Homo sapiens: one gene and its partners. The protein of the gene in region 3 interacts with the protein of the main gene of each other region in a biochemical or structural test. Each region holds a gene or a part of one and is shown on either strand. Other genes may lie near its edges.

Region 1 (10,488 bases), on a different chromosome or scaffold from region 3:
ATCACTGGCTGCCCAGAATATTTGTACAAGTAAACTGCACTGCCCTGCTGCCCCTGAGCACACGGACCCGTCCGAACCGCGGGGCAGTGTGTCCTGCTGCTCCCTGCTGCGGGGACTGTCCTCAGGGTGGTCCTCACCTCTGCTTCCGGCCCCTGTGTGCAACCCTAACAAGGCCATCTTCACGGTGGATGCCAAGACCACAGAGGTATTTGCTTCTCTTTTAGATCCAGCTGTGTAGATGTGGATTTGTGGTTTGTGCCTTAAACCTGGGATTTGTGTGTTTTAATGCAATTAGAAAAACATTTGGGCACTTCGGGAGGTGGGAAGTTTGCTTGAGCCCAGGAGTTCAAGACCAGCCTGGGCAACATAGCAAGATCCCATCTCTACAAAGAAATTAGCCAGGTGCGGTGGCACACACCTGTAGTCCCAGCTACCAGGGAGGCTGAGGCAGGAGGATCACTTGAACCCAGGAGTTCAAGGTTGCAGTGAGCTCTGATTGCGCCGCTGCAGTGAGCTCTGATTGCGCCACTGCACTCCAGCCTGGGCAACAGAGTGAGACCCTGTCTGTCAGGAAAAGGCTGGCTTCTGCATGGTCGTCCTGGGCTGTTCTGGGCAGCTGGTGGAGCTGCTGGGGATGTCTGCATCCTTGCTCCTCTTTGTGATTCCTCAGATCCTGGTTGCTAACGACAAAGCTTGCGGGCTCCTGGGGTACAGCAGCCAGGACCTGATTGGCCAGAAGCTCACGCAGTTCTTTCTGAGGTCAGATTCTGATGTGGTGGAGGCCCTCAGCGAGGAGCACATGGAGGCCGACGGCCACGCTGCGGTGGTGTTTGGCACGGTGGTGAGTGGATGCGGGTGCAGCGTTCAGTCTGGCCTCAAGACCAGCAGTGTGTGGCAGGAACAGCTCAGTGTTCCCTACCAGGAGCTCTGCTGGGGGTTGGGTGGCACCAGGACATCTCAGCTTCTTCAGCTGAAAATGTCATCCCAGGCGCCGTTTCCCCGCTTCAGCTGCAGTGGGGGTGGGGGCCCTTTAAGAACGAATCATCGCAGGAATGGACACTGTGGCTGTGGCTGGACTCCTGGGAGGTGTCGTGGGTGGCCCTTGCTTTGTCTGAGGGCTGTAGCTTCACTAATGTTTTGCAGTCCTGCCGGGCAGCACATCAGATGCTCAAGAGTAATATGGTTTTATTGTCTATTGATTTTTACATTCTGTTTGGTGTTTGTGGGAGCGGGCGGGGGTGTTGGCCTGGAAGCATTTCCCTAGACAGTGTTGATTCTCTCACCTGTGCCATGTGTCCAACCTGGATGTTGACAGGTGAGCTGAGTTGGATGTGGAGGACTGAGCCCAAGGCATGGAAAAAGCCCAAGGCATGGCTGATTGTAGGGTTTCCCCTCGTCAGCCGGTCGGGGACTGGGGGAGTAGCGTTGGAGGGCAGTGGAGGTTGGGGTATGATCTGAGGCTCTAGTAGTCATCCAGATCCTCCAGGTTGCCTGTTTCCCACCTAGTGTGTGGCTTTCACACAGAAGACCCCATTGCTTGAACTGAACTGATGTCACAGGCTTAGGACCAATTGTATCAGAAAATCACTGGTTCAAGAAACTGACTACTAAGAAGAAAAAAACTAAGATATTCACCATGTGTTGGTGTCTGTTTCTTTAAGAAATAACAGATACTGCTTTTTTCACCCTGCAATATTACCATGAACTGAGAATGAAATCTACTCTCTTGATAAAACTTGCACTTGGAGATTTTAATGTTCAGTATGGGAAATCTTGTTTGTGCTTTGGTAAATTTCTGAAATGAAAATCAGGTAAGCAGAAGTTGAAAACGTTGCAGTGCCTGGAGTTTGGGCCTCCTGGAGGCAGGTGCCCCACCCATACTGGTCTTTTGGGTTCATGGCATGCAGGTGTGAACCTGTCTGTTTCCACAGGTGGACATCATCAGCCGTAGTGGGGAGAAGATTCCAGTGTCTGTGTGGATGAAGAGGATGCGGCAGGAGCGCCGCCTATGCTGCGTGGTGGTCCTGGAGCCCGTGGAGAGGGTCTCGACCTGGGTCGCTTTCCAGAGCGATGTGAGTGTGCAACTTTGCCTCATGTCTCATGGACGCTGGAGCCGGCGTCGTTCTCCTCTTCAGCAAGTGCTGGTCCCTGTCTCATTCCTTTGGGAAGAAAGAGAGGATGAGGAGCCTGGAGGGTCTGCCCAGTGGTACCCTCGCTGATTGCGTGTGCTTGGGCAGGGAACGAACTTCCTATACTTCAGTTCCTCACCTGTGAACTGGGGCATAATCATAACTCCTCATAAGATTGTTTCAACATTTAAATGAGATAATATATGTAAACCCCCCAGGATAGTAGCTGGCATTAGAGACAGCCCTCATATGTGAACTGGGATGTTATTAATGAGCTGTGGTGTGGGCCAGGCTCCTGAAGAACAAGAAGGCCCACAATTTAGGTACGTCTCTGGTAGAAGGAGACAGATGATGAAGCTCTTATCAAATTCATGTGTATATGTCTCTTGCCCTTCCGATGGAGAAGTCATGTTGGGGTCTTGCTTTTGGCTTGAACATATTGAAGCTTAGTTAAATTTACAGCTGGAGCACAAGAAGCTTTTATGATAAGCACGGGGCTTTTCCTCCAGGGCACCGTCACGTCATGTGACAGTCTCTTTGCTCATCTTCACGGGTACGTGTCTGGGGAGGACGTGGCTGGGCAGCATATCACAGACCTGATCCCTTCTGTGCAGCTCCCTCCTTCTGGCCAGCACATCCCAAAGGTAGGGCTCCTGACCTCCCGCACTGTGTGATGGGGTGGAGTTCTTAGCTCTGAATCCATAACTGGAGACGCAGACCAAGGGTTTCTGAAGGCAAGGGTGGCCTTAGGGGTGGGACATGCTCAGTTTTGAGCTTCCTGTGCGCTGAGGCCTTGACCAAGGGCCGGAGCCTATGTGGTCTCCCAGCTGACCACTCTTGTCCCCTGAGTCTTCTCCCAGGAGCTGGGCCACCCACAGAGGTGGATGCTGGGACGCTGCCCAAGGCTGAGGGGTGGGAGGTAACATCCACAGCTGCGCAGCTGGTGTAGTGCTGCCTGTGGGGCCAGTATCCTGGTGCCAGATCAAGGATGGCACAGTTGCCAGTGGCGTGGCTGAGCCCCGAGCCTGAGCCCCACAGTCCTCCCTCCCTCCCTCCCTGCTGGTGCCCGGCCCCTCACTGGGGTGTCTCACTTGCCCTGGGGTTGCTGTGCCTGGGGCGGCTCTGGACACTGAGTCCTCCCCACCCACAGAAGGGCTCTTTCCTGGGCCAGCTGGGCCTGGGAGGAGAGGGAAGGCAGAGCAGTGTGGGTGTGAGATGTCCTGGGGACCTTCCCCGATGACGTGGGGTAGAAGTCGGGTCGGACGCAGCACAGACTCAGTGCTCTGTCCACGTGAAACACGGCTTAAGCCAAACGACAAGCCTTTCTTTCAGAATCTCAAGATTCAGAGGTCTGTTGGAAGAGCCAGGGACGGTACCACCTTCCCTCTGAGCTTAAAGCTGAAATCCCAACCCAGCAGCGAGGAGGCGACCACCGGTGAGGCGGCCCCTGTGAGCGGCTACCGGGCATCTGTCTGGGTGTTCTGCACCATCAGTGGCCTCATCACCCTCCTGCCGGATGGGACCATCCACGGCATCAACCACAGCTTCGCGCTGACACTGTTTGGTTACGGAAAGACGGAGCTCCTGGGCAAGGTGGGGCTGCCCTGGGCGCCTGGCTCCCGTTCCCTGGGAGGAAGCTGCTGTGCTCTGCAGTGCGGGCTTGCGTGTGGCACAGGCCTCGCACCCGGCAAGCTCTCCAGCTCGCTCCTTTACCCAGGAAGGACCTTGGGTCCAGGGAGGGAGGTCCCTGCTCATGGCTGCCAAGCTCCTTCCTCTCCACCCTTCCCCAGCAACCACCGTCGGAGGGAGAGGAGCACTGTGCTTCGAAGCCCTGAGAGATCTGGTCTGACTGATGGACCAGGGTTTACGACACAACTGCGGGGGTTCATTTCTCACCCTAGTAGAAATACTAAAAAGTAGCTAAGCTGAATTGTAGTTACGTTAAATTTAAGTTAGTTAAAAAGCAGTTAGTGTTCTTCCTGGATGAGGGGTTCCCACAGGAGCTGAGGGCATTGAGACCTTGCAGGGATTTTGGGGGCATGGACACTTGTGCCCTCTGTGAGGTTAGAGCGGGTTCTGGCATTACAGCTATGGGCAGTGTCCCGGTGAGGGGGCCACACACAGGTTCAGAGGAAGCATCTGTCAGAGCAGCTCCTGGCCTGGGAGGAAGGCCCCACAGTCCTTCTGTCCTGGGTGCATGTCACTGTTCCGGCCACCAGTGAGCCGCGTGAGGTGAGGCTTGCAAACACAGGCTCCCAGATCCATCTAAACATGGGGCCAAAGGCCAGATGTCTGCTCCAAAGATGTGTCGATGTCACTGTAACTTGCCGCAGAGTATGTTTTTACCTTTTTCTTAAGGGGAAAATCACAGATCACATGTTGAGCATCTGAGGGGCTTCAGGTGCGTCGAAGGGCATTTGGCCCGAGGCCTTTCCTGACCTTAAGGGTGAACCCTCAGGGACTGGCTCTCCTTGTGTTCATTCCTCCCCCAGGGGGACGGTCCAGTGGGTCAGCGTGGATCCTCCAGGTTCTGAAATGTCCCTGCTTTGTTTTCTAGAATATCACTTTCCTGATTCCTGGTTTCTACAGCTACATGGACCTTGCGTACAACAGCTCATTACAGCTCCCAGACCTGGCCAGCTGCCTGGACGTCGGCAATGAGAGTGGGTGTGGGGAGAGAACCTTGGACCCGTGGCAGGGCCAGGACCCAGCTGAGGGGGGCCAGGGTAAGACGTCCTCTTCCTCCTGAATGCGCCTGTAGCTGCTGAGCCCCAGACAGCCCCATGCCTCTGAGACAGGGCTGGGAGGAGCAGGAGCTATTGTCCCTCCAGAGGCTCAGGGGTGGTGGGGGGCGGAGTAGGGGGTGACTGTTTTCTGGTTTGATGTTCCTCTCTGTCTCGGGGGCTGTGACATATTCTTATAAACATATGAGCATAGAGAAGAGAATAGAAAACCCCCCAAGAGTGCATCACCAGTGCCCATGATATCCGAGACACAGCATCCGAGACACAGCTAACTGACCGTCTTGTCTTTTCTAAGTAAACTTATATAGCTTCATGTAGTTTAAGTGAAGCCATGTAGCATATCGGATTACCGCTGACCCTTGAACAACTGGGTTTGACATTAGAGGGTCCACTTATACACAGATTCTTTTCAACCTCAGAAATCCAGTACTGGTGGGAGGTGAAGTTGGCGTATATGGAGGGCTGACTTTCCATGCACCTGCGTTCCACGGGTGGGCTGTGGGACTTGAGGGTGCTCGGATTTTGGCATTCTGGGGGTCCTGGAACCCATCCCCTGAGTGTACTGAGGGTTGACTGCAATTCCTAAATTGAATGTTCTACCAGTATTTCCTGGTTTAATTATGTTTATCCCACATAGTTTTAATTTAACATTTTAAATGATTTCAACAAATACTCCGAGTCCCTTTCATATGCACAGTCTTAGGTGTGTGGCTTGTGAAGACAGGGTGAGCACACTGCCTCCTGTCCCGAGGGACCCACTCTGGCTGGGAGCAATGAGGGGCAGTAGAACCCGCTGATGTCCTGGCAGGGCCCACGCCTGAGCTCCTGGTAAGGAGCAGGCCCCTGGCTGCTTCCACAGTGCTCATTCTTGTTGACAAGCATGGGGTGGGGGTGCGCCCTGTCCCTGGCTCTGCCCTGGTGGGGACCCCGGAACTCTGCCTCCAGGGCCTCTGCCCACCTGGAGCGTGGGCTCACTGGGTGTGGTTCTGGAGTTCCTGGGGCAGGCTGGGGCCCAAGGGTCCAGGTGATGGTGTGGCAGGGGTGTCAGGTGGGGGGGTCTCTGTTCTATGGAAGGACACAGTGGGGGTGAGAGAGAGAGAGTGGCCAGTGCTGGCAGAAAGCACAGCCACCTCGGGGCTCTGCATCGTGGTGGGGCCAGGCGGGTCGGCAGGTGCTGGCTTGCGAGGTTGTCCTGCATGCGGTCACTCGGGTATCGAATGAGTGCGAAAGTGGATTTAATACAGTCACTGAGAAAAACTACAGCTTCACGAGACTGACCAGCCTGGTGAGATAAACATTTACCGTCAGACACTCTTTAGCTGTCTGGGCATTGTGTGAGTTCTTTGGCACATGCGCCCAGCCTCCTTCCCCACAGGGTCTCGCCTGGGGCATTAGAAGCTGGATTGTAACATTTGTTTTAAAAGATACTTTGTTAGGCTGTTGGTTCTCCTTACAATCCCGGCTTTCCTTAGCATGTGGTTCCCTTCATTGTATCTGGGTTTTTCTATCTCAGTCTGTCCTTTATACAAGCTTTTTCCTCTAGCACTAATTATATTCCCCTTCCCCTTTTTCCAGAATTCCAAATTCTGACCTGTGCATGCATGCCTGTGTTGAGTACATGCTGTTTGTCGGATATTTGGTGGTGGGGGGAGGGGATCACATTTCTGTTACTCTCGCATTGTTTCCTTAGGATGAATTCTTAGAAGTGGAACTTCTGGATTCAGGGAATGAACACGTTTGCTAGTTACTGTCAAAAATGCCTCTTGGAGAAGTTATGCCGAACCACCCAACTGTCCTGGTCACAGAGCAGGCTTCTCTCGGCTTGGGGCTAGGGTTCTTTCTGGGGTCGTCCTTTTTTTTTTTTTTTTTTGAGACAGAGTTTCGCTCTTGTTGCTGAGGCTGGAGTGCAGTGGCACCATCTCGTCTCACTGCAACCTCTGCCTCCTGGGTTCAGGTGATTCTCCTGTCCCAGCCTTCCGAGTAGCTGGGATTACAGGGATGTAGCACCATGCCTGGCTAATTTTGTGTTTTTAGTGGAGACGGGGTTTCTCCATGTTGGTCAGGCTGGTCTCGAACTCCCAGCCTCAGGTGATCTGCCCGCCTCGGTCTCCCAAAGTGCTGGGATTACAGGTGTGAGCCACTGTGCGTGGCCTCCCAGGGTCCTTCCTAATGCAGGCTGCTTTCTCTCATGTAACCAAGAGACATACATTCATCCCCTACCACGTGCCAGGCTGCACTGCGTGCAGATGCCCCTGCGCTCACGGGGACTGGAGGGAGCCAGGTGACATGGAGCCCAGGAAGTGGCCAGAGCTCGGGAGGAAGGCAAAGAGGGGAAGAGGGCATGCAGTCTTAGGCTTGGGGTCCCAGGAGGCCTAGGGAAGCCTTGTAGATACCCAGGTACAGCATTTCTGGGATCAGGAGCCATGATCCCAAGGCCTCTAATACTTCAGATATGGCAGGGAGGCCAGGTGGAGAGACCTGGAGGAGTGAGGCCACAGAGTTGGGGGGCCATGGCCGAGACTTCGGCTTCTATCCAGAGTCAGATGGGAGCTGTTGGAGGGTTGTCAGCAGGTGAGTGCCGTGCTCTGACTTGGGTGTTAATAGGATCATGGTAGCTGGCTGCAGGTGTCCTGGGCCAAGGAGCAGGGAGACAGGAGGCAGAGAAGAGGGCGCTGGGTTGGACCTGGGACGCCTGGGGTGGTGAGAGGTGGTCGATGCTGGTCATGCTGTGAAGCAGTCTCAGTGAGTTCCAGGCGAATGAGCAGATTCGTTTTAGGGAGTGCCTGTGAAGAGCAAACGCTCTTTTTTGGTGTTGCTGCCAGATCCAAGGATTAATGTCGTGCTTGCTGGTGGCCACGTTGTGCCCCGAGATGAGATCCGGAAGCTGATGGAAAGCCAAGACATCTTCACCGGGACTCAGACTGAGCTGATTGCTGGAGGCCAGCTCCTTTCCTGCCTCTCACCTCAGCCTGCTCCAGGGTAAGTCCCTTGGTGGGAGGTTGCAGGTTTACTAAAAGTCCAGACAGATGGTAGGTGAATGAGGAACAAGTCAGAGAGAAATGTTCAGCCTATTATTCATAGTAACATTGAAAACTCACATGTGTTGAGCACCTGCTCTCTTCCACACACACTGACTGCTGGGTTTTCTGTGCTGCCTGGCTGAGTCCTTATCAGCCTGTATGGGAGGGCACCATGGTGTTACTGTCTCACTGTAGGGATAAGGAAACAGGCTGTGGAGAGTTCCAGAATGTTGAGGTAGATTTCAGAGAACTGATGGAATCATAATTTTATCATTTTCTTTTTTTTTTTTTTTTTTTTTTTTTTTAGACAGAGTCTCGCTGTGTCACCCAGGCTGGAGTGCAGTGGTGCGATCTCAGCTCATTGCTCATTGCATTGCAAGCTCCGCCTCCCGGGTTCACACCATTCTCCTGCCTCAGCCTCCCGAGTAGCTGGGGACTACAGGCGCCCGCCACCACGCCCGGTTACTTTTTTGTATTTTTTTTAGTTTCACCATGTTGGCCAGGATGGTCTCGATTTCCTGACTTTGTTATCCACCCGCCTTGGCCTCCCAAAGTGCTGGGATTAATTTTATCATTTTCAAAGTCATATGAAGCTGTTCTCTTTGCACATTTTAAAATATTCTATTTAGAGTAAAGAAAGTTTATATTAGAGAATTAGGAACATTTGGAAAAGTAGAAATAAAAACTTGTTCTATTCTCATAGTCGTATTGTACATAGCACGTGTGTGTGTATTTTTAACCCATTTTCTTCTTCGGAATCTTTTTTTTTTTTTTTTTTTTGAGATGGAGTCTCACTCAGCTGCCCAGGCTAGAGTGCAGTGGCGTGATCTTGGTTCACTGTAACTTCTGCCCCCTGGTTCAAGTGATTCTCCTGCCTCAGCCTCCTGAGTAGCTGAGACTACAGGCACCTGCCACCACGCCCGGCTAATTTTTGTATTTTTACTAGAGGCGGGGTTTCACTATGTTGGCCAGACTGGTCTCGATCCCTTGACCTCATGGTCCACCCGCCTTGGCCTCCCAAAGTCCTGGGATTACAGGTGTGAGCCACCATACCTGACCCAGAATCTTTTCTTATGCACAGCATGCAGTAAAGGTGCCCAAACTGTAGGTGCCCAGGTGGCCCAGGACCCTTTCTTGGCTGCCTGCAGACCCTGGGTCCCTTCCTGCACTGTGCCCCCTACACCCTGCTGCCCTGGGTCAGGGCAGAGGTTAGACTGCCTGCCGTTGAGCCTGACGCATGCATTTCCTTCTGTCTGCCTTCTGCTTATTGCTGTGTCTGTGATATTTATCCACATAGTTGTGTTTTCTAGTCTTGAAATTATTTAAAAAATATGTAATAGATACATATAAAGTATGTATGTATGTTTAAAAATATGTAATGCATGGGCCAGGCGCGGTGGATCACGCCTATAATCCCAGCACTTTGGGAGGCTGAAGTGGGTGGATCATGAGGTCGGCAGATGGAGACCATCCTGGCTAACACGGTGCAACCCCGTCTCTACTAAAAATACAAAAAATTAGCCAGGCATGGTGGCGGGCGCCTGTAGTCCCAGCTACTCGGGAGGCTGAGGCAGGAGAATGGTGTGAACCTGGGAGGCGGAGCTTGCAGTGAGCCTAGATCGCGCCACTGCACTCCAGCCTGGGCGACAGAGTGAGACTCCGTCTCAAAAAAAAAAAAAAAATGTAATACATGCATATGTGTTTTTTTAATTATAGAAGAATAATGGTAAAAGCAATAGTTCCCCTGGCCGTCTTCCAATCCCCCTCCTCCAATCCTACTCTTTCCCCCAGGGGACCGCAGTCAGCAGTTAGAGCCTTCCAGGCCTTCTTTCTTGTGCATTTAACTATAGTTGTATATTATACTTCTATGTGTGCATGTGCATATGTGTGCTCACATGTAACTGCTTCTGTTCCCTGAGCACGGCTGGGATTATACCATACACAGTGTCCTAAATGTGTGTGTATGTGTACGCACACACATGTCCTGCAGATCTTCCTCTACAGGCCTCCTCGGAACCGAAGCCTCCTGGATGGCACCCTAGCTCATGGGCCACTTTCCCACTGGCCGATGTGCCGGTGCTTTCTCTTGTTTGCTTAGCCTCCCTGATTTTCCCTTTGCCACTGTGGGTCCGCGTTGAGTGGCGTGAGAGGGTAGCTGTTGGCTCTATTTGCTCTACTTCCACTGCGAGTGGAACAGAGCAGGCGCTCAACACGTGAGTTTTCAATATTACTATGAATAATATTGCTGTGCGCACCTCTCCAGAGGTGCCACCAAGCTGAAGTGGGGCGGCCGTGGTTGAGGGCCCAAGTCTGACCCGTGGGTGCTCAACAGCACTAGCGGCCGGGCCCCCTTGCCAGTGCTCCCGTTGTCTGGGACATCTTGGTGGACAGAGGCCACGTGGCCCGTTGCTATCCTCAGGACCTTGGACACAACTCATCTTCCAGGACTTGGTGGTACCAAGGGAGTTGCCCAAGATCAGCCAATTCCTAGTCTTTCTATTGCATTGGACGTTTCTGGATGTCACAGTTCTGAGAGTTTGATTAGCATCCACTGCACAGCTAGTGCAGTTATGACTATAGAGATTTATCCATTCA
Region 2 (10,886 bases), on a different chromosome or scaffold from region 3:
GAGAATCGCTTGAACCCAGGAGGTGTAGGTTGCAATGAGCCGAGATCATGCCACTGCACCCCAGCCTGGGCCATAGAGTGAGACCCTGTCTCAAAAAGAAAAAAATTCAACCTGTGTAAGATGTGTCTCCTCCAATGTGTGTAAGATGACTGACCCAATACCAAGCACAAAGTAGACTTTGTGTACTTTACAAAGTATACAATACCAGTAGATGTTAGATATCTTTGCCTTTTGCATCATTTAGGATATGTGTTTGCTGGTCAGGAGAGACTCAAAATAACACTGCCACAAATAGTGTCACAAAATTCCTGGACTTCTAGCTGATCCTGTGAAATAGTCAGATAAGTGAGTAAAGCCATCTTGGACCCTCTAGACCAGGCAAGCTGCCCTCAATGATTCCAGTTGAGGCTACACGGAACTGAATTGCTTAGTCAAGCCTGATCCATGAAATTGAGAGGTATAATAAAGTGATAATTGTTTTAAGTCACTGAATTTGGGGGTGGTTCCTATAAACAGAACACATCTCCTAACTAATACAGAGACAAAAACTTACCTTAAAAGTTTATATCTAGGCCGGGCATGGTGGCTCACGCCTGTAATCCCAGCACTTTGGGAGGCCGAGACGGGCGGATCACGACGTCAGGAGATTGAGACCATCCTCGTTAACACGGTGAAATCCCTTCTCTACTAAAAATACAAAAAATTAGCTGGGCATGGTGGCGAGCACCTGTAGTCCCAGCTACTTGGGAGGCTGAGGCAGGAGAATGGCGTGAACCCAGGAGGTGGAGCTTGCAGTGAGCCGAGATCGCGCCACTGCACTCCATCCAGCCTGGGCGACACAGCGAGACTCCATCTCAAAAAACAAACAAACAAACAAAAAATTTTATCTAATACCATGGTACCATAGCATTTGGAAATTACTGCTTTCCTCCTTTATTTTCATATGTTGTTTGTTTTTTTTCCTTTTAAGAAAGTCTTTATACTCACACAATTCTGTATTCAGCTTTTTTACTTACATATTATTTCAAAAGCAAGTGCCTGTTTTTGCTACATAAACTTAGTTTTTAATAGGGCCATTTTACATGGAAAGTTTGCCTTTTTGAGATAGAATTCACATATCATAAAATTCACTCTTTTTTTTTTTTTTTTTTTTTTTTTGCGATGGAGTCTTGCTCTGTCGCCCAGACTGGAGTGCAGTGGCGTGATCTCGGCTCACTGCAACCTCTGCCTCCCAAGTTCAAGCAATTCTCCTGCCTCAGCCTCCTGAGGAGCTGGGATTACAGACGCCCGCCACCACGCCCAGCTAATTTTTTTTGTATTTTTAGTACTACGTTGGTCACGTTGGTCTCGAACTCCTGACCTCGTGATCTGCCCACCTCAGCCTCCCAAAGTGCTGGGATCACAGGCTTGAGCCACCGCGCCCGGCCCTAAGTTCACTTTTTAAAGTATACAATTTAGTGGGTTTTCGTATATCCACAAAGCCATGCAACCATTATCATTATATACTTCCAGACATTTTCTTTTTTCTTTCCCTTTTTGAGATGGAGTTTCACTCTTGTTGTCCAGACTGGAGTGTAATGGCACTATCTTGGCTCACAGCAGCCTCCGCCTCCCGGATTCAAGCTATTCTCCTGCCTCAGCCTCCCAAGTAACTGGGATTACAGGCGTGCGCCACCACGCCTGACTAATTTTTTTGTGTTTTTAGTAGAGACGGGGTTTCACCATGTTGGCCAGGCTAGTCTTGACCTCCTGACCTAAGGCGATCCACCAGCCTCGGTCTCCGAAAGTGCTGGGATTACAGGCACAAGCCCCTGTGCCCATCCTACTTCCAGACATTTTTATCACCCCAGAAAGAAACCCTGCGCCCCTTGGTAGTGACTTCCCATTCCTACTCCTCACCCCCATGTCCCAGCCCCTTGCAGCCACTAATCTACTAATATTTTCTGCCTCTGTGGATTTGCCTGTTCTTGGTGTTTCTTTTTTTTTTTTTTTTTTTTTTTTTTTTGAGACAGAGTCTCGCTCTGTCGCCCAGGCTGCAGTGCCTCTCGAGTAGCTGGAATTACAGGCATGAGCCACTGACAGTGAGCTTATCCTTTTTCCATCTGTAACAATTTCCAAATGTACACCTCCATTTCAGATCTCCTGACTTTTAGGGTCATACCAATTATGAAATAGACGCAATTGCTTGGTGTCCCAACAGGCACTTCCAGCTCAACAAGTGCAAAATTATTTGCATCTATTAGTATTTCCATCCTCCCCCCAAATAAACTTCCTTTTATCCGTTCTCCTTATGCTCATCACTAGCCCTAGGACTGACCTAGGTGTTCAGTCCTGGAACTAGGAGTCCTTATCTGGCTACACCCAATCAGTCACCAATCTGTTAGATTCTACTTTATGTTTTGCAACTCATGGTTTCCTGCACCCTAGGGCGGCAGGAACTATGTATAATGCAGCTGATCAGTTGGTAGCCCCTAGTGTAATATGCACATTAATCTCCGTTTCATGTACTAGAAACAAGGTTGAGAACCGTGACACATTTTATGACCATCGCAGGCTTCCTAAAGATCCAAAATCCATTGTTGCTTCCCTGCTTAAGAGCTCCCGGCAACCTGCAGAAAAACTAAATTCTTCCCCATTCATGTTTTCAGCAGTAGAAGCTCTAGAATTTCTACACTTGAGGAGCTATGGGGTAAGAAAGAAGATCTGGAGGATTTGCGAGGCTTGTCCAAAGCAATTCCCAGCTAGTACACTGTTTTTTCCTTATATTTGTCTTTACTTTATGAGGCTAGGGGATGGCTGTTGGACAATATGGGAGAAACAAAGCCCTCAACCCTCACCACCTTTGGTGTGGCCACTGCTATCCACTATAACTCCTAATATACTCTGCATTCTTTAGGCTGTGGCCACACTGAATTGCTTACTTTCCAGAATGCATCTCACTCTTCCTCCTGTAATCACTCCATCTCCTGTTTGATCTGAAAGCTTCTTAATCCCATCTCTATTTCAGGCAAGATTTGAAGTCCCCCTCATACCATAGACAAAAATTGGCTCAAAATAAATCAAAGACCTAAATGTAAGAGCTAACACATAAAACTTAGAAGCAAACATTATGGGTAAATATTTGTATCCTGGATTAGGCAATGCTTTATTGCATATGACACCAAAAGTGCAAACAACAACAACAACAAAAATGAATAAACTGGACTTTATAAAAATTAAAAACTTTTGTGCTTCAAAGGACACTATCAAGAAAGTGAAAAGACAACCAATCCGCTGAATAAGAGAGACTATTTACAAATTATAGATCTGATTAGGGACTTGTATCTAGAATATATAAAAGAACTCTTGCCACTCAACAATAAAAAGAAAAATTGCCCAATTTAAAAGTGTTTAGCTGGGTGTGGGGCTCAACGCCTGTAATTCCAGCACTCTGGGAAGCCAAGGCGAGAGGATCACTTGAGTCCAGGCATTTGAGACCAACCTGGGCAACATGGCAAGGCCCTGTCTCTACAAAAAAATACAAAAATTATCTGGGCATGGTGGTTTGCACCTGTGGTCCCAGCTACCTGGGAGGCTGAGGTGGAGGATTGCTTGAGCCCAGGAAGGTTGCAGTGAGCCATGATAGGGCCACTGCATTCCAGCCTGGATGACAGAGTGGCACCCTGTCTCAAAAAGATACACAAATGGCGGGGTGCGGTGGCTCACGCCTGTAATCCCACCACTTTGGGAGGCCAAGGAGGGCGGATCACCTGAGGTCGGGAGTTTGAGACCAGCCTGACCAACATGGAGAAACCCCCACTCTACTAAAAATACAAAATTAGCCGGGCTTGGTGGTGCATGCCTGTAATCCCAGCTACTAGGGAGGCTGAGGCTGGAGAATCTCTTGAACCCGGGAGGCGGAGGTTGCGGTGAGCCAAGATCACGCCACTGCACTCCAGCCTGAGCAACAAGAGCGAAACACCGTCTCAAACAAACAAACAAAAAAAGATAGACAATAATAGGTGTTGGTGAGGCTGTGGAGAAAATTGGAGCCCTCATACAATTGCCAGTGGAAATGTAAAATAGTGTAGCTGCTTTGGAAAACAGTTTGACAGTTCCTCAAAAAGTTAAACTCTGAGTTACCATATGGCTCAACTACTTCATTCTTAGGAGGATTGAAAACACATGTTCCCACAAAAACTTGTTCATAGAGGTACTCATGGATATTTATAATAGCAGAAGTGAAAACAACCCAAATGTTCATCAACTGATAAATGGATAAACAAAATATGGTATGTCCATACAAAGGGATATTATTTAGCCTTGAAAGAATTTCCGGGCACGGTGGCTCACGCCTGTAATCCCAGCACTTTGGGAGGCCAAGGCAGGTGAACACTTGAGGCCAGGAGTTCAAGACCAGCCTGGCCAACATGGTGAAACCCATCTCTACTAAAAATACAAAAAATCAGTCAGGCGTGGTGGCATGCGCCTGTAATCCCAGCTACTCGGGAGGCTGAGGCAGGAGAATCGCTTGAACAGAGGAGACAGAGGTTGCAGTGAGCCGAGATGGCACCATTGCACTCCATCCCGAGTGACAGAGTGAGACTGTCTCAAAAAAACAAAAACAAATAATTCAACTTCCTCGCATGGACCTTGTACTGAAACAGGGATTTCCAAACCTTTCTTTGTAGCCACTGTGCACCAGCCCCATCAGAGCTCTGTCTCTCTCCTGTGTCCCTCTCTTATGATGCCAGGCTTCTCGCCATTTGCTCACTCAGCTCACCGTCCTGCCTGTGCTCTGCCTTCATCCTGCTGTTCATTCATGCAGCAAATATTAACTGAGCAGCTGCCCTGAGCCACGTGCTGTTACTAGGCCCCTGATGATACGGCAGCAACCAAAACAACATCACTATCTCAAAATGTTTACATTCTAGTGAAGGAGACAGATACATACAAATAATTAAACAGACATACTTGAGAGAGATACATGCTATAAAGAAAATACAAGCTGAGTTAAGGAGATGAGTGGTATTATTTTAAACAAGGCTGTCAGGGACGTCATCTCTGGAGGTGATGCTTGAGCAGAGACTGGAATAAAGTGCTCAAGTACTGGTTGAATTAGACGCGACTGGAACAGAACGAGAAGCTAAATCATGTATATCCTTAGACACCAAAGTCTGGTTTTCTCTCTGTGTAACATGGGATCAGTAGAGTGAGTAGAGGAAGGACATGATCTGAGTTAGATTTTTTTTTTTTTTTTTGAGACGGAGTCTCGCTCTGTCGCCCAGGCTGGAGTGCAGTGGCACAATCTCGGCTCACCACAACCTCCGCCTCCTGGGTTCAAGCAATTCTCCTGCCTCAGCCTCCCAAGTAGCTGAGACTATAGGCGCGCGCCACCACGCCTGGCTAATTTTTTTATATTTTTAGTAGAGACGGGGTTTCACCATGTTGGCCAGGCTGGTCTCGAACTCCTGACCGGTGATGCGCCCGCCTCGGGCCCCCAAAGTACTGGGAGTACAGGCGTGAGCCACTGCGCCCAGCCCTGAGTTAGATTTTAAGAAGATCTCTCTGGCTGCTGTATTGAGAATAAAGTACTGGGGGCAAGAGTTGACACAGAGGCAACTTTTAGAAGGCTACTGCAATAATTCAGCCCGAGTAATCGTGGCTTGTGGGAGAAGTGTAGGAATGGAGATGAGAAGTCAGATTTAGGATATATTGTGTATACATAACGGAGAGGTGTAGTCAGAACAGATGTGGAAGCAAGACAGGGCAAGGCTGACTCACGGCTTTTAGTCTGAGCAGCTGAGTAAAAATGGTACCGTTTACATCAAATAGGGAACGGTGGTGAAGGAGCAGGTTAGAGGGGAAACAGGGAGCATGGCTTTGGACCCTTAACGTTTGAGATTCGACAGAAACCCTGGTTCACGGAATTGATCCAAGCTACATACTGATAATTGGGATTAGTGAGTTACAATGGCGTTGCAAGCCATGAAACTGGTTCAGACCGGCTGAATGAGCGGGACAGGAAGGGGCTGAAACACTTGAGTCCTTGTGAGAGCCCCAGCTCCAGGGGCAGCCTCGGGGGAAGCTCCCCGGGCGATGACTGCGGTAATGGAGCCGTAGGAGCTCCACGAGGTGCAGGTTCAGCGTCTTAGAAGGATGAGCAGCGGCTCGCCACAGCTCGGAGGCGGGTGGGCAGCGCTCCAGGCCGAGGGCCCCGCGTCGGCAAAGACACAGGACCCACGACAAGGCGGCCACGGCCTGAGTCAAAAGGAAGGCCGCGCGCCTCCTCTCCAGCCCGCAGCAAGCGGGTGCCACGAGGCACTCAGCCGGTCCCCGAAGTTCCTCTCACGCGGCCCCAAGACCACCACCGTAGTCCAGGCCAACAAGCGCTGCCGGGACTCCCGAGGCCACGAATGAGCCGGGAGCCACCAGTAGCCGGCCAAGTCTCGCGAGAGCGCGGCCTCGCCCTCCCAGCATGCCCCGCGCCGCCGCCGCTGCCGCCGCCGCCGCCGCCGCCGCGCCGCGGCTTGAGGGCGGGAGGCTGGGGGAGGGTAGCGGAGCCGGCGCCGCCGCCATGTTGGGTCTGAAGCGGCTGCTGTAGGCGCCGACGGAGCGAGCGGGCGTGCGGAGCGGGCGACAGTGGCGTGGGATCTGCCTCTCTGCGAGCAGCTGGGAGCGGCGGCGGCGGCGCCATGAGCGGGGGCACCCCTTACATCGGCAGCAAGATCAGCCTCATCTCCAAGGCGGAGATCCGCTACGAGGGCATCCTCTACACCATCGACACCGAAAACTCCACCGTAGCCCTTGCCAAAGGTACGCGGGACCGGGCCTCAGGGTGGGGGCCGAGCCGGGCGCCGCTCGGGGCTGCTCCCCGCTCCGGCCCGCGGCCTCCTCGTTCCCTCCCCTCCCTCCGTCGAGCTCCGGGAGGCCTCTCGCCTCCCTTCTCCGGGCCCCGGCGTCGCGGGCCGGACCGCGGCCTCCCCGCGGCTCCCTGGTTTCCGCCCCCCGGAATGTCCGCGCCTGAAGCCCGGGGAACTACGGGACTGAGTGCGCGGCGGGCGGCCCTGAAGTCCGAGAACGGGCCGGAGAACACGGAGAAACGCGTCTTCCAACTCCGAAATTCGGGGCTTCTGCCGTCTTAGCACAAAACAAAGCCGGAGTATTCAAAGAATTTTTCCGCCCAGCTTGAGTTCATCGCGGATGCGTTGACTACACAGCACCCATTTTCTCACTTTGTTCATTTCAATTCGTGGCGATCTTCCTCTGGTGAACTCTTGAGTAATGTGCTAAAACTTTGGGTTTGCTCTGCGACGCAGACATTCTCGAAATGCCATCGATGCCGTGGAGCAGATCCCATCTCCCTCGGCTCATCCTCTGTTGGTATTTACCTGTTAAACCGGAATCCTCAAAGCCTGTTGTGCAACCACCTCATTAGGGCGCGTGGTAAAAATGCTTGCTGCTGCCCCGACGCCCCTGTTTCTGGAAACGGGTTCAAGCTTGATCCAGGATCCTTCTTGACCAGGCAAGCTTGACCTTTGATCCAGGCTCAGTGGGCGTTGACTGATCCCTCTGGAGGCTCTCTGGGAAAGGGAATTCGGCCGAGAAGGAAGGTGCCCCTACCCACAGTGTTAATATTTGGCATCCCTAGAGTCTGTGTGGGTTTTGTTTCCGTTCACACGTGCAGGGCCTTTGCTCCGCCAGGAAACCAGAAAGAAAATAAACTTTAGCTCCTGAATCTTAAAGGAAATCTCACAACAGTGTAAAATACTTTGAGGGAAGCTAGATAACCTAGGTGATTTTCCCAGCACTTCTGGTAGAGGTGGGAACTGCATAGCATGGTTAGGGACCCTGTGGATAGGTTAGGTCCAAGGATAAAGAAGAAGATTTTCGAAATCTGTAAAATTTTAAAAATCGTTAACAGATAGGGGAGTGGTTTCACGGGATCAAGTATTTAATAATATTTCTTGGATGCTCTGGTAAATCCTTTATTTATTTATTTATTTATTTATTTTTCTAAGATGGAGTTTAGCTCTTTTTGCTCAGGCTGGAGTGCAAAGGCAATGATTTCGGCTCACTGCAACGTCCGCCTCCCGGGTTCAAGTGATTCTCCTGCCTCAGCCTCCCAAGTAGCTGGGATTATAGGCGCCTGCCACCACCCCTAGCTAATTTGGTATTTTTAGTAGAGACGGGGTTTCACCATGTTGGCCAGGCTGGTCTCGAACTCCTGACCTCAGGTGATCCACCCGCCTCGGCCACCCAAAGTGCTGGGATTACAGGCATGAGCCACCGCGCCCAGCCTCTGGTAAATCTTTTTAATAGCCCTGGTGTTGGGACAAATCTTATACCTGGGTAGGGAACCTTTTGATGTTACAGAACTGTACACCATAAAGGAGTAGTATGAGATGGTGATAGTTGCACAACTCTGCAAATTTGCTGAAGATCATTGAATTATACACTTTTTAAAATCACCAAGTCTAATTTTAAAAGTAGTATGAAAAACCAGGGAGTACCCCCACATTTCCCTCTTCACCTTGTGAAACATTATGCAGTGACACATTACCTCATTAAAACACCTGTAGACTTGGCGGTTAGAAATCGGCTATAGGATGTATGATGGATGGTATTTGGTGTTTATTAAAGACTTTCCCAGTGATGCTTCTTAAGTAACTTAGTTTTTGCTTGGCCTTATTTTGAATTTATTTTTATATTTTTTATACAATAGTTACTTAGCTGTATAGTGTTTTTCTGGCTTTTTGAAATTATGAAAAAGCCTCTCTTTATGAAATTATGAAAAGTGCTGGGTGAGAGCCAGATATGGGTTGAAAATAATTTCTCATTAAAGTGGTTTAATAAATTTGTTTTAAAGTATTGCTTTACCTAATCTGAATTTAAAAGTGTCTTGCCAGCTTAGTGACTCAATAAGTTGGCTGTGTTACCTTTATTCCTCACAAAGAAAAAAAATACATTTGAAAATTTTAAAGTATTTTTGTTCTTTTTTAAAAACTACGAACATATCCTTTTATGCAGGAACCCCAAAAGTCTACATTTTAACAACCCACATTTTAAAAAACTTTTCAGCAGCTTTTAGAGTCAGTATTTCATTAGTCTGTAATAGTTAAATTCATATGACATAATGACATAAAATATAAATTTGTTCTTTGTGTCATGACTTGATAAATATATGAATATAGCAGTGAAAAATTTTTTTAATCATTGAATTTATGTTTGTACTCATGGCTTTGATATTTCATCCCACATCATTATATGCTTTTTCTTTTTCTTTTTTTTTTTTCTTTTTGAGATGGCGTCTCACTCTGTTGCCCAGGCCGGAGTGCAGTGGCACAATCCTGGCTCCCTGTAACCTCTGCCTTCCAAGTTCAAGCAATTCTCCTGCCTCAGCCTCCTGAGTAGCTGGGATTACTGGCGCGTGCCACCACGCTTGGCTAATTTTTGTATTTTTTAGTTGAGACAGGCTTTCACCATATTGGCCAGGCTGGTCTTGAACTCCTGACCTCAAGTGATCCACCTGCCTCAGCCTCCCAGAATGCCGGGATTACAGGCATGAGCCACCGCACCCGGCTGCTTTTTCTTAAGCAACATGAGTTAAATGTGTAACCAGTTTGGGGAATTTGATTATGTTCGCAAAAACTGACATTATCAAACCTTTATATATTAGTCTACATGATATTATCTAATCGAAAACTACATTATAACTGTCTAGTCAATACTGGACACATTTCAGATTTCAAGATTAGAAGCAAGGAGTTCAATCTTAAAATTTTAAAATTTACATGACTTGTTGAGTAATTCGATATCAGAAAATTTCACCTTCCATTTCAAAATTTGAACGAAGAATGGTAGTCTAAAAGATTAAAGCCAAAAGTGTTTGTTTTGTTTTGTTTTCGTTTTTTTTTGTTGTTGTTTTGAGACAGAGTCTTGCTCTTGCCCAGGCTGGAGTGCAGTGGTGCGATCTTGGCTCGCTGCAGCCTCCACCTCCCGGGTTCAAGCAGTTCTGCCACAGCCTTCCGAGTAGCTGGGACTACAGGCGCCCAACACAGCTGGCTAATTTTTGTATTTTGAGTAGAGACGGGGTTTCACCATGTTGGCCAGGCTGGTCTCAAACTCCTGACCTCAGATGATCCACCCACCTTGGCCTCCCAAAGTGCTGGGATTACAGGTGTGAGGCACTGCACCCGGCCTGAAGCCAAAAGTTTATTCATGGAATTTATAATACAGTGTGTATTTGGATGTAGAGATCCCTGTTACTGTTTTTAAACTATGGATTAAGAGTTAATCTCTTTGAGTAACAGTCTTAGCATTCTCTTTTGAACTTTTTTTTTTTTAATTTCTCAGGGAGAGTGTTATTGGGAAACCTAACTACACAGGCTGAAAAGATACATAAGATAAAAATGAAATATTTTTAAACAAACATCTTTGTAACCACCACCCAGGGCAAGACAGACATTGCCAGCATCCCAGAAGCCTCCCACCACCTATATTTTCCCATCACAACTATCACCATCTTAATTTAAGCTAGATATAAATGTTCTTCTGACATTTATAGTTTTACCATATAAGTTTACATCTCTAAATAATAGAGTTTAATTTTGCCCATTTTTAACTTTATGTAAATAGGATTGTGTTGTATATATTTTATTTTTAGCTTTTATTGTTTCATAATATTCCATCATGAATATAACACAAGTTTATTCCTTCTGCCATTGTTTTGGATATTGCATTTAGATTGTTTGCAGTTTGGGGCTATTATAAACAATGCTTTTATGAACATTTCTGTTTAAGTGCACTGGTGCATGTTTATTTCGTTTTCTTGAGATTATATACTTAGAATTTGAATTGCAAGAACATGGGGAATGTTGGTCTTTATCAGGTAATGCCAGGTAGTT
Region 3 (10,488 bases):
CTAAATATCCAACAGTAGAAATGGGTCGCGTAAACTTCGGTGTATCCATATATGGGAATGTTACATTGCATTGTCCTGTAAAACCATGTTGCAGATGTGTTTATTGGCAAATAATGTTCATGACGTACTGACTCATAGAAAACTCTCCATATTGTATCCTGTGTTTGGAAAAAACAGACTGCACAGAAATTCTGTAAAAGTACACAACAGAACATTCTAGGAGCTGTTTGTGATAACAGAATTAAAGCAGATTTTTCTCACATGGACTAATCTTCAGTTTCCTGGTTTTTCTAGGAAGACATTTTTTGTATGGTGACATGTTTGTTCTTCCTACACCAATAAATTTATTGAGATAGAATTTACATATAGCCTGCACAAAAAGTATACCATTTGATGTCTTGACATGTGTATATACCTGTGAAACCGTTACCAAAATCAACATAAGCATTTTTATCACCCCCAAAAGTTCCCTAGTATTCCTATGTGTCCCTCCCTTTAGCTGCCCCCCCCACAACACTTCCCCCTTCCCAAGCAAGCGCTGATTTGCTTTGTTTTTTTTTGTTGTTTTTTTGAGACAGAGTCTCCCTCTGTTGCCTAGGCTGGAGTACAGTGGCGTGGTCTCTGCTTACTGCAACCTCTGCCTCCCAGGTTAAAGCGATTGTCTTGCCTCAGCTTCCTGAGTAGCTGGGATTACACATACACGTTCCACCGTGCCCAGCTAATTTTTTTTTCCCCCCACCGAGACAGAGTCTTGCTCTGTCACCCAGGCTGGAGTGCAGTGGCGCGATCTCGGCTCACTGCAACCTCTGCCTCCCGGGTTCAAGCGATTGTCGCGCCTCAGCCTCCCAAGTAGCTGGGATTATAGGCGTGCGCCACCATGCCTGGCTAATTTTTGTATTTTTAGTAGAGACAGGGTTTCACCATGTTGGCCAGGCTGGTCTTAAACTCCTGACCTCAAGTGATCCACCCACCTCAGCCTCCCAAAGTGCTGGGATCACAGGCATGAGTCACCGTGCCTGGCCCCAATTTTTGTATTTTTAGTAGAGACAAGGTTTCCCTATGTTGGCCAGGCTGGTGTTGAACTCCCAACCTCAGGTGATCCACCTGTCTTGGCCTCCCAAAGTGTTGGGATTACAGGCATGAGCCATAGTGTCCGGACTGATCTGCTTTCTGTATCTGCTTTCTGTTTCTATAGATTAGTTTACATTTCCTAGGATTTTATATAAATGGAGTTACTATAGTATATACTCCTTGTATAGCTTTTTTCATTAAGAATAGTTACGATTTATCCACGTTGTTGAGTGTCTAGTTTATTTTCATTGCTTAATAGTATTCCATTGTATGGATTTAGCAGTTGATCCGTTTATCTGTTGATGTACATTTGGGTTGTTTCCAGTTTTTGACTGTTAAATAACCAAAGCTGCAATGAACATTCATGTACAAGTCTCTGGACATAAGCTTTCTTTTCTCTTGGGTAAAAACCTAGGATTAAAATGGCTGGGTTGTATAGCAGATGTATGTTTAACCTTCTGGGAAATTGCCAAACTGTTTTCCAAAGTAGTTGTACCATTTTACGTTTCCACCAGTGGTGTATGAGAGTTGCACTTGCTCCAACATCCTCATCTGCACTTGGAATGGTCATTTAAATTTTAGCCATTGTAATAGGCGTGTAGTAGTATCACATGGTTTAATTTGCATTTCCCTAATGACTAATTATGTTGAGTATCTTTTCATATGCTTATTTGCCTTCCACATAACCTCTTTGGTGAAGTGTCTGTTCAAACCATTTGTCTATTTTTCAATTGTGTTGGTTTTTTTTTTTTTTTTTTGAGACAGAGTCTGGCTCTTGGTGCCCAGGCTACAGTGCAGTGGTGCAGTCTCAGCTCACTGCAACCTCCACTTCCCAGGTTTAAGCGATTCTCCTGCCTCAGCCTCCCAAGTAGCTGGGATTACAGGTGCCTACCACCACGCCTGGCTAATTTTGTATTTTTAGTAGAGACGAGGTTTCACCATGTTGGTCAGGCTAGTCTCGAACTCCTAACCTCAGGTGATCCACCTACCTCAGCCTCCCAAAGTGCTGGGATTACAGGCGTGAGCCACTGGGTTGGTTTATTAAGAGATTTTATGTGTTCTGAATTTAAGTCCTTTATCAGAAAAATGCTTTGAAATATTTTGTCTCAGTCTGTGGCTTGTCTTTGCATTCTCTAAACAGTGTCTTTCAAAGAGTAGAAGTTTTAAATTTTGATCAAGCCCAGTCTATCAGTGTTTTTTAAATGGATCATGCTTTTGGTGTCATGCCTAAGAAAACTTTGCCTAACCCAGTGCCACAAGGATTTCCTCCTATATTTTGTTCTAGAAATTTTTAGTTTTAGGTTTTACATTTAGATCTGTGATCCATTTTGAATTAATTTTTGTATATATCTGTTTATATATATATATATATATATATATATTTTTTTTTTTTTTTTTTTTTTTTTGAGACTGAATCTTAGTCTTTTGCCCAGGCTACAGTGTAGCGGGGTGACTTCTGCTACTGCAACCTCTGCCTCCAGGTTCAAGCGATTCTCCTGCCTCAGCCTCCCAAGTAACTGGGATTACAGGCACCTGCCACAATGCCTGGCTAATTTTTGTAGTTTTAGTAGAGACGGGGTTTCACCATCTTGGCCAGGCTGGTCTTGAACTCCTAACCTCGTGATCCACCTGCCTTGACGTCCCAAAGTACTGGATTATAGGCGTGAGCCACCATGCCCGGCCCCAAATATAGATTTAAGTTCATTTCTTTGTCTGTGGATATCTAACCGTTCAACACCATTTTGTTGAAGAGACACTTTAACTTTTTAAGCAGTTATTTTTTCAAATACGCCTGCTGTAGTTTATTAGTTGACAAAACATTTGCTAATAATTCTTAGATAAGGATTTGGTCAAAATAAAGGCACTGCAAAGACTAATCATGGAAAATTATTTATCGTGACGTACTTCTATTGCTGCAAAGAGGAAGGCCAATGTCTCAGCCTTATTTAAATACATAATGTACATGTTACCCTGAATCTGCTGATAAGCCCAATTTTAGTGGTGACTCTCTTCCAACCATCCCCTTCCTCCCATCAGTCATGGACATACTATCTAAAAAAGAAGAAAACACCCTTGTTGGTTTGTTTAACTTTGTCTTTCCCACGTCCTTCCAGATCCACGAGAGCGTGTGAAAGAAGATGACTTAGATGTTGTTCTCAGCCCTCAGAGACGGAGCTTTGGAGGGGGCTGCCACGTGACAGCCGCTGTTAGCTCCCGGCGCTCAGGAAGTCCATTAGAGAAAGATAGTGATGGGCTTCGTCTGCTTGGTGGACGTAGGATTGGCAGTGGGAGGATAATCTCTGCCCGGACCTTTGAGAAGGATCACCGTCTTAGCGATAAGGACCTGCGGGACTTGAGAGACAGAGACCGAGAGAGGGACTTCAAGGACAAGCGTTTCAGGGTTTGTCTTTTTTTTTTTTTTTTTTTTTTAAATTGAGACGGAGTTTCGCTCTTGTTGCCCAGGCTGGAGTGCAATGGCACGATCTTGACTCACTGCTGCCTCAGCCCAGTATCTGGGATTATAGGCACGCACCACCATACCCGGCTAACTTTTTATATTTTTAGTAGAGACGGGGTTTCTCCATGTTAGTCAGGCTGGTCTCTCAAGCTCCCAACCTTAGGTGATCGGCCTGCCTCGGCCTCCCAAAGTGCTGGGATTACAGGCGTGAGCCACCACACCCGACCTGGGTTTGTCTTCTAGATTCTTTGGTAGTTCATGTGCTTGGGGACTTGATATTCACTTTTTTTATACCAGGTTACTTTGAGAACAGGCATGAACACAGCCTGCTCTTAAACCAGTCAGGGAGGAAGGGGTGGGGGTGGTGATGGGCCTCAGGTATACAGCATCATATCTTCCTTTCACTATTGAACATTACAACGAAGACCTTGACTGAAGTAGAAATGGCTTGACTAGAAATTTTTTAATCTTGCTTTATGTACTTTTCCAGAGAGAGTTTGGAGATAGTAAGCGTGTCTTTGGTGAGCGTAGAAGAAATGATTCTTACACAGAAGAAGAACCAGAGTGGTTCTCTGCTGGACCCACAAGTCAGTCTGAAACCATCGAACTGACTGGCTTTGATGATAAGATACTAGAAGAAGATCACAAAGGGAGAAAAAGAACAAGGCGACGGACAGCCTCTGTGAAGGAAGGTCAGTTCAAACTTTGGGAGGGAAGTTCGCTGTTTTAAAATGAGATGTAGGCTGGGCGTGGTGGCTCACACCTGTAATCCCAACACTTTGGGAGGCCGAGGTGGGCGGATCACCTGAGGTCAGGAGTTTGAGACCAGCCTGGCCAACATGGTGAAACCCCGTCTCCACAAAAATTCAAAAATTAGTGGGGTGTGGTGGCTGGTGCCTGTAGTCCCAGCTACTCGGGAGGCTGAGGCACAAGAATTGCTTGAACCTGGGAGGCAGAGGTTGCAGTGAGCTATCACACCACTGCACTCCAGCCTGGGTGACAGAGCAAGACTGTCTCAAAAATAAAATAGAGATGTGATTATCACTGGCTAATTGTACACTTAGGAATGGGCACCAGATGTATAGGAAATGGCAAGTTTTTCATGATGCATCCTGATTTTGAAATCTTTTTTTTTTTTTGAGACGGAGTCTCGCTCAGTTGCCCGGGCTGGAGTGCAGTGGCACCATCTCAGCTCACTGCAGCCTCCATTTCCTTGGTTCAAGCGATTCTTCCCTGCCTCAGCCTCCCGAGTAGCTGGGATTACAGGTGCCTGCCATGACGCCTGGGTAATTTTTTCTATTTTTAGTAGAGATGGGGTTTCACCATGTTGCCCAGGCTGGTCTCGAACTCCTGACCTCAGGTGATCACCCGCCTCGGCATCCCAAAGTGCTGGGATTATAGGTGTGAGCCACCATGCCCAGCCCCTGCAACTGCTTAAGTGAGGATTCACTAAGTGTAGATCATACTGTTTCCCTAACTCGTTCTGCCTGCCACACTAAACAGAAAAGTCTGAAGTTATCCTGTAAGAGGACTGTGTACATGAAAGAGTTCCCCAGAAATAAGAAACGTGGTAGAAAAATGAGAGGTCTCATTTATTGAGCAATTATGTCCTAAACACAGTGGTGAGTGTATTTTGTCTGTGTAATCCTTCATCTCCTAATGACCTTGTGCAGTGTAGGTACTTTTTTATGCCCATTTCATAGATGAGCAAATGGAGGCTCAGAGGGCTTAAGTAACTCAAGGACACTTAAGGTAGTCACCATGGAAATAAGTAGTGAAGTCAAGAGTAAAGCAAGATGCTTCTGGGCATCAGAGCCTACCTTCTTCATCATGGTATTAGGCCTTCCCAGGTCAGTTGTTTGTGATTTGCCTTCTCTCAAACTTAGTTTCAGGATGAGTACGGTGGCTCACGCCTGTGATCCCAGCACTTTGGGAGGCCAAGGCGGGTGGATCATTTGAGGTCAGGAGTTTGAGACCAGCCTGGCCAACATGGTGAAACCCTGTCTATATTGAAAATACAAAAATTAGCTGGGTGTGTTGACGCATGCCTGTACTCCCGGCTACTGGAGAGGCTGAGGCAGGAGAATTGCTTGAATCCAGGAGACAGGTTGCAGCGAGATTGTGCTACTGCACTCCAGCCTGGGAGACAGAGTTGAGACTCTGTCTCCAAAAAAACCAAAAAAACCTAGTTTCCTCAGCTGTAAGATGGGGTCAGATATCTCCCTTGCTAAACTGAAGGAGCCAGAGCTAATGTGTGTGAAGTACCTGCTGCAGAGTGGGAGCCCATTGGTCTGCAGCCAATCATTTTTTAGGGCAGTGACCTGGCTCTAAGGTGGCCAGTCCCAGGCTGATGGTCTTGGGAAGGAGGCACTGTAGAGCCAGGTGGGGACTAACCTGGGTTAAAGTACTAGGGCTCCTGCTTAGAAAAGGATAATTTTTGACAAAATTTTGACAGCTGGGCCTGTTTCTTTGTAAAGGGAAGAACAATGCCTATCATAACTTAAGGGTTACCTTTAGCATTGAAGAACACATGTACCCATCAGAACTCAGCCTCCAAGAAGGCACTCAGTAAATTCTACCTGCCTCAAGCTTTCAGGCTTAGTTGAAAGCCTTTTGGCAGATACTAGGCAACAAAAGGGGAAAGCCTTTTTTTTTGTTTTTTGTTTGTTTGTTTGTTTTGAGATGGAGTCTTGCTTTGTTGCCTAGGCTGGAGTGCAGTGGCACGATCTTAGCTCACGGCAAACTCCGCCTCCGGGTTCACGCCATTCTCCTGCCTCAGCCTCCCGAGTAGCTGGGACTACAGGCGCCCACCACCACGCCCAGCTAAATTTTTGTATTTTTAGTAGAGATGGGGTTTCACTATGTTAGCCAGGATGGTCTCGATCTCCTGACCTCGTGATCCACCCGCCTCAGCCTCCCAAAGTACTGGGATTACAGGCGTGAGCCACTGCGCCAGTCCTCTATTTTTTTTTTTAATTAATTTTCTTTTTTTTTTGAGACGGAGTCTCGCTCTGTCACCCAGGCTGGAGTGCAGTGGTGCGATCTTGGCTCACTGCAAGCTCCGCCTCCCAGGGTCAAGCAATTCTGCCTCAGCCTCCGGAGTAGCGGAACTACAGGCGCGTGCCAACACACCCAGCTAATTTTTTGTATTTTTAGTAGAGATGGTGTTTCACCGTGTTAGCCAGGATGGTCTCAATCTCCTGACCTCATGATCCACCTGCCTCAGCCTCCCAAAGTGCTGAGATTATAGGCGTGAACCACTGCGCCTGGTCTGGGAAAGCTATTTTAATAAATAAGGGAAAAATCAGTGCCACCTTAACATTTTGATGAAGACAAATATAAGCAGAAATAAGCTGATGGCATTTATTTAGAAGGAGAAGGAAATGGAGAATCAAAATACTCATCTTCTTTTGTAGTCTTCAAAATATAGTACATATTACCATTATCTTTGTGCTATCACACAGTGTTCCCTAGGATAATGTAAGAAATTGATAGGTAACTTGGAAGACTTTGCTATTAAATTGGCTTTGAGATATGTCTTTGTCTCATTCTTAATTAAAGCAGCACCCAATAAAGCACCACTTTAACGATAAAGATCAGGCTTCTGGTGAGAAAAAATTATGTTTTTCTTAAGTGAGGTGAAATCTGAATTTCAACCATTCTTGTATCAAGTGCAGGAGTCAGGAGTGAGATAGATTGGTAGTGGCACCTCCTTATTTTACAGATGCAGAGAGAAATTGAGACCTGGAGAGAAGGGATGGATTTCATGGCAGAGCCTGGAGTAGAATCCAGGGGTCTTGGTTCATCCCATTAGCTAACTACAGAATGTCTCTAGGTTGCCCTTGCTATGTATTTAAAATAAATAAAAACATTAAAAACTAAGATGTCAGATGCCTTAAATGTTAGCATCTGGCAGTTTCACTTTGTCTCCCCATCCTAAAAACAACTGAACATTGTAGAGTATACCTGGCACTACAGAGTAAGACAAAGCTGGTTAGACCAGGTTCCCTACCCTCAGAGTTTAGCCTCACCAGAGAGTTACTATTATACAGTGTGACAAGTACTCAGAGATGACATAAGGATTATAGAGAAGGTAGCAATTAATTTTACTAGGTAGGGCAAAAATGGGTAGGCAGGGCAAGCTTCCCAGAGAAGGTCACATTTGAATTTCGCCTTGAAGGATGAGCTACAACAACCAACCTGTAGGCAAGTGAAAATTGCCCTCATGCCAGGTTTCTCATAAATACCTTAGGTTGCTGAGCCCTGACTGAAAGTGGTGCTACAGGTGCATGGGCAGAAGCAGAGCTAAATTAATTTGGTTCCATTTTTAAGCAGTAAGAGACTTGCAAAGACTATCCTTTAAAAAAAAAATCACTAGAAAAAGAACTAGGCATGGTGCTGGACACAGTGGCTCACTACTGTAATCCTAGCACTTTGGGAGGCCAAGGCAGGAGGATCACTTGAGGTCAGCAGTTTAAGTCCAGGCTGTGCAATTTAGCGAGACTCAGTCTCTACAAAAAATTAAAAAATTATCCAGGCATGGTGGTGTGCACCTGTGGTCCCAGATACTCTGGAGGCTAAGGCAGGAGGATCACCTGAGCCCAGGAGGTAGAGACTACAGTGAGCTGTGATCGTGCCACTACTCTCCAGCCTGTGCAACAGAGCAAGACCCCATCTCAAAAAAAAAAAAAAAAAAAAGACCCCCCTCCACTATAGAAAATATGAAGTTCCCACGAAGGGAACCATAATCCTCCCCACATCCCATTGGTATTCTAGCTTTATTAAGGCTTTTTTCCTTTTCTGCCTCCCGTAGAAGGGGGACTGTTTTATTCTTGCAAGTACAGTACCTGCACGAGAAGTCTGCTTTTTAAGTCATGTGTGGCTCTTCTACATGTATACTGATGGCTGAAGCCACAGAGGGACACTGGAGTGATTTACTTATCAGACGGTTTTTGTCCTGGTTTTGCTTTCAGGTATAGTAGAGTGCAATGGAGGAGTGGCCGAAGAGGATGAAGTGGAGGTCATCCTTGCACAGGAGCCTGCGGCTGATCAGGAAGTGCCAAGGGATGCTGTCTTGCCTGAGCAGTCCCCAGGAGACTTTGACTTTAATGAGTTCTTTAACCTTGATAAGGTGCCATGCTTGGCTTCGGTGAGTGTAGCAGCACACTTAAAAAATGTGTGGTTAAATTTGACCTGAGTATTTAAGACATCGGTTTGAAAGTGTTGTTTTGCTAGATGCTTTTGGGGTTTTTGGCTTTTATTCTTACATATTTAAATTTTTGTTGGCTTTGTTTTGAGAGGCTTAATGGATAATATGAGATTTTTGTACCAGTTAACTCTTTTTTAAGCTGGTGGTGTTAGACTAAAAATTCTTTTTTTGTTGTTTTTTTTTTTTTGAGTTGGAATCTTACTCTGTCACCCAGGCTGAAGTGCAGTGGCACGATCTTGGCTCATTGCAACCTCCGTCTCCTGGGTTCAAGCGATTCTTCTGCCTCAGCCTCCTGAGTAGTTGGGATCACAGGTGTGTGCCACCATGCCCAGCTAATTTTTGTATTTTTAGTAGAGATGGGGTTTCACTATGTTGGCCAGACGGGTCTTGAACTCCTGACCTTGTGATCCTCCTGTCTTGGTCTCCCAAAGTGCTGGGATTACAGGCGTGAGCCACCGCACCTGGCTTTTTAAAGTTATTTTTAGAATTCCTGTTTATCACTAAGATGCTTATATTTTGGATACACTCCCCAATTTTTCACAGTGATGTATCATGCTTATCTTATATTTTAATTAATACAAAATTAGTGCACTTAAAAGTCAGCATTATTTAAGGTATGAGCATCTACAGGTGGAATGTGATTGAAATTGTCTAGATAATTCCTCTGAAAATAGAAATTCTGGAAACAATAATTAGGGTCTTGAATTAAAATCCCTTCAAAAGAAGTATATTGTGGCTTAATTTGGGTATGGATTATGAAAACATTCTTCCAGATAAGAACAAAGAATAAATCTAAGCTTCCCCTGCTTAACTTTGGAAACTGTGGGTTCCAGATTTCAAATAAAACAGTCACTAATTCTGTCATCCATGTACCAGTTTTTGAAAAAGCATGTTTTCTGTTTATCAGTGGGATTGACGTGAAAGTATATGACTTATTTTCAAGGATATGTCTGATTTTTGGATAGATGTTTGCTCTATCTTGTCTTTTCTAAATATTGATAAGAATACTGCAAAAAATCAATTTGGATATTTGACTGAATTTATGGTATGATTTGAATTGAAAAATTTTTTAAATGCTTAAATCTAGTTTTTAAGAAAGATTGGCACTATTTCATAATTTCTACCAAAGCAATTTATTGTTCATAGTGTGTTATTTAATTGTCCTTATTAAATGTAAACTATGGAGGTTGGATTTGGAAACAGAAAACACCTGAAAACTCTCTATTAATCTCAAACAGAAATTAGAGATCAGTTGAAATTTCATCTTCCACAATCATACTTTTTCTAAACTTTGACTTGGAATTACAGTCTTTATGAGCTCTGCTTTTTTAGCCTTTGGCTTCTGAAACTCTCAAGATTGAATTTCATAATGTTCATTACAACCTTGAAACCACTAAGTTTGAAGCAATGGTTTTCTTTCATCAGTTCCCCATACTTGATATTTAGTTGAAGGTCACTCATCAGCTTGTCAGTGGAATGCTGTGGCATTGACACTGTTCTCTGAGAACATTTGGTAGTACGTGGATTTACTCCTGAGGCAAAGGATAGAAACCCAAAAACCTTTTTGTAGCATAGAGGCTTTGCTTTATATTCTTAGAAAGTAGTGGTGGTTCATGCCTGTAATCCCAGCACTTTGGGAGGCCAAGGCAGGTGGATCATTTGAGGTCAGAAGTTCGAGACAAGCCTGGCCAACATGGTAAAAACCCATCTCTACTAAAAATAAAATTAAAAATAGCCAGGCATATGGTGG

What was found.
Region 1: of the proteins of EIF4ENIF1 (region 3) and PASK, one has a biochemical effect on the other in vitro, tested with the Homo sapiens proteins (one study listed by IntAct).
Region 2: the proteins of EIF4ENIF1 (region 3) and LSM14A are reported together in a solved structure, tested with the Homo sapiens proteins (one study listed by BioGRID).

Annotation. Positions count from the first base shown.
Region 1 is NC_000002.12:241,130,238-241,140,725, reverse strand, and holds part of PASK (PAS domain-containing serine/threonine-protein kinase), read left to right. Parts: coding exon 1-205; intron 206-670; coding exon 671-841; intron 842-1,931; coding exon 1,932-2,072; intron 2,073-2,638; coding exon 2,639-2,773; intron 2,774-3,461; coding exon 3,462-3,722; intron 3,723-4,686; coding exon 4,687-4,855; intron 4,856-6,888; exon of another isoform or gene 6,889-7,296; coding exon of another isoform or gene 7,297-7,444; intron 7,445-7,695; coding exon 7,696-7,852; intron 7,853-10,488. UniProt on the Homo sapiens protein: Serine/threonine-protein kinase involved in energy homeostasis and protein translation. Phosphorylates EEF1A1, GYS1, PDX1 and RPS6.
Region 2 is NC_000019.10:34,165,969-34,176,854, forward strand, and holds the start of LSM14A (protein LSM14 homolog A), read left to right. Parts: upstream 1-6,535; 5' UTR 6,536-6,674; coding exon 6,675-6,795; exon of another isoform or gene 6,796-7,504; intron 7,505-10,886. UniProt on the Homo sapiens protein: Essential for formation of P-bodies, cytoplasmic structures that provide storage sites for translationally inactive mRNAs and protect them from degradation. Acts as a repressor of mRNA translation. May play a role in mitotic spindle assembly.
Region 3 is NC_000022.11:31,456,665-31,467,152, reverse strand, and holds part of EIF4ENIF1 (eukaryotic translation initiation factor 4E transporter), read left to right. Parts: intron 1-3,185; coding exon 3,186-3,472; intron 3,473-4,019; coding exon 4,020-4,221; intron 4,222-8,502; coding exon 8,503-8,678; intron 8,679-10,488. UniProt on the Homo sapiens protein: EIF4E-binding protein that regulates translation and stability of mRNAs in processing bodies (P-bodies). Plays a key role in P-bodies to coordinate the storage of translationally inactive mRNAs in the cytoplasm and prevent their degradation.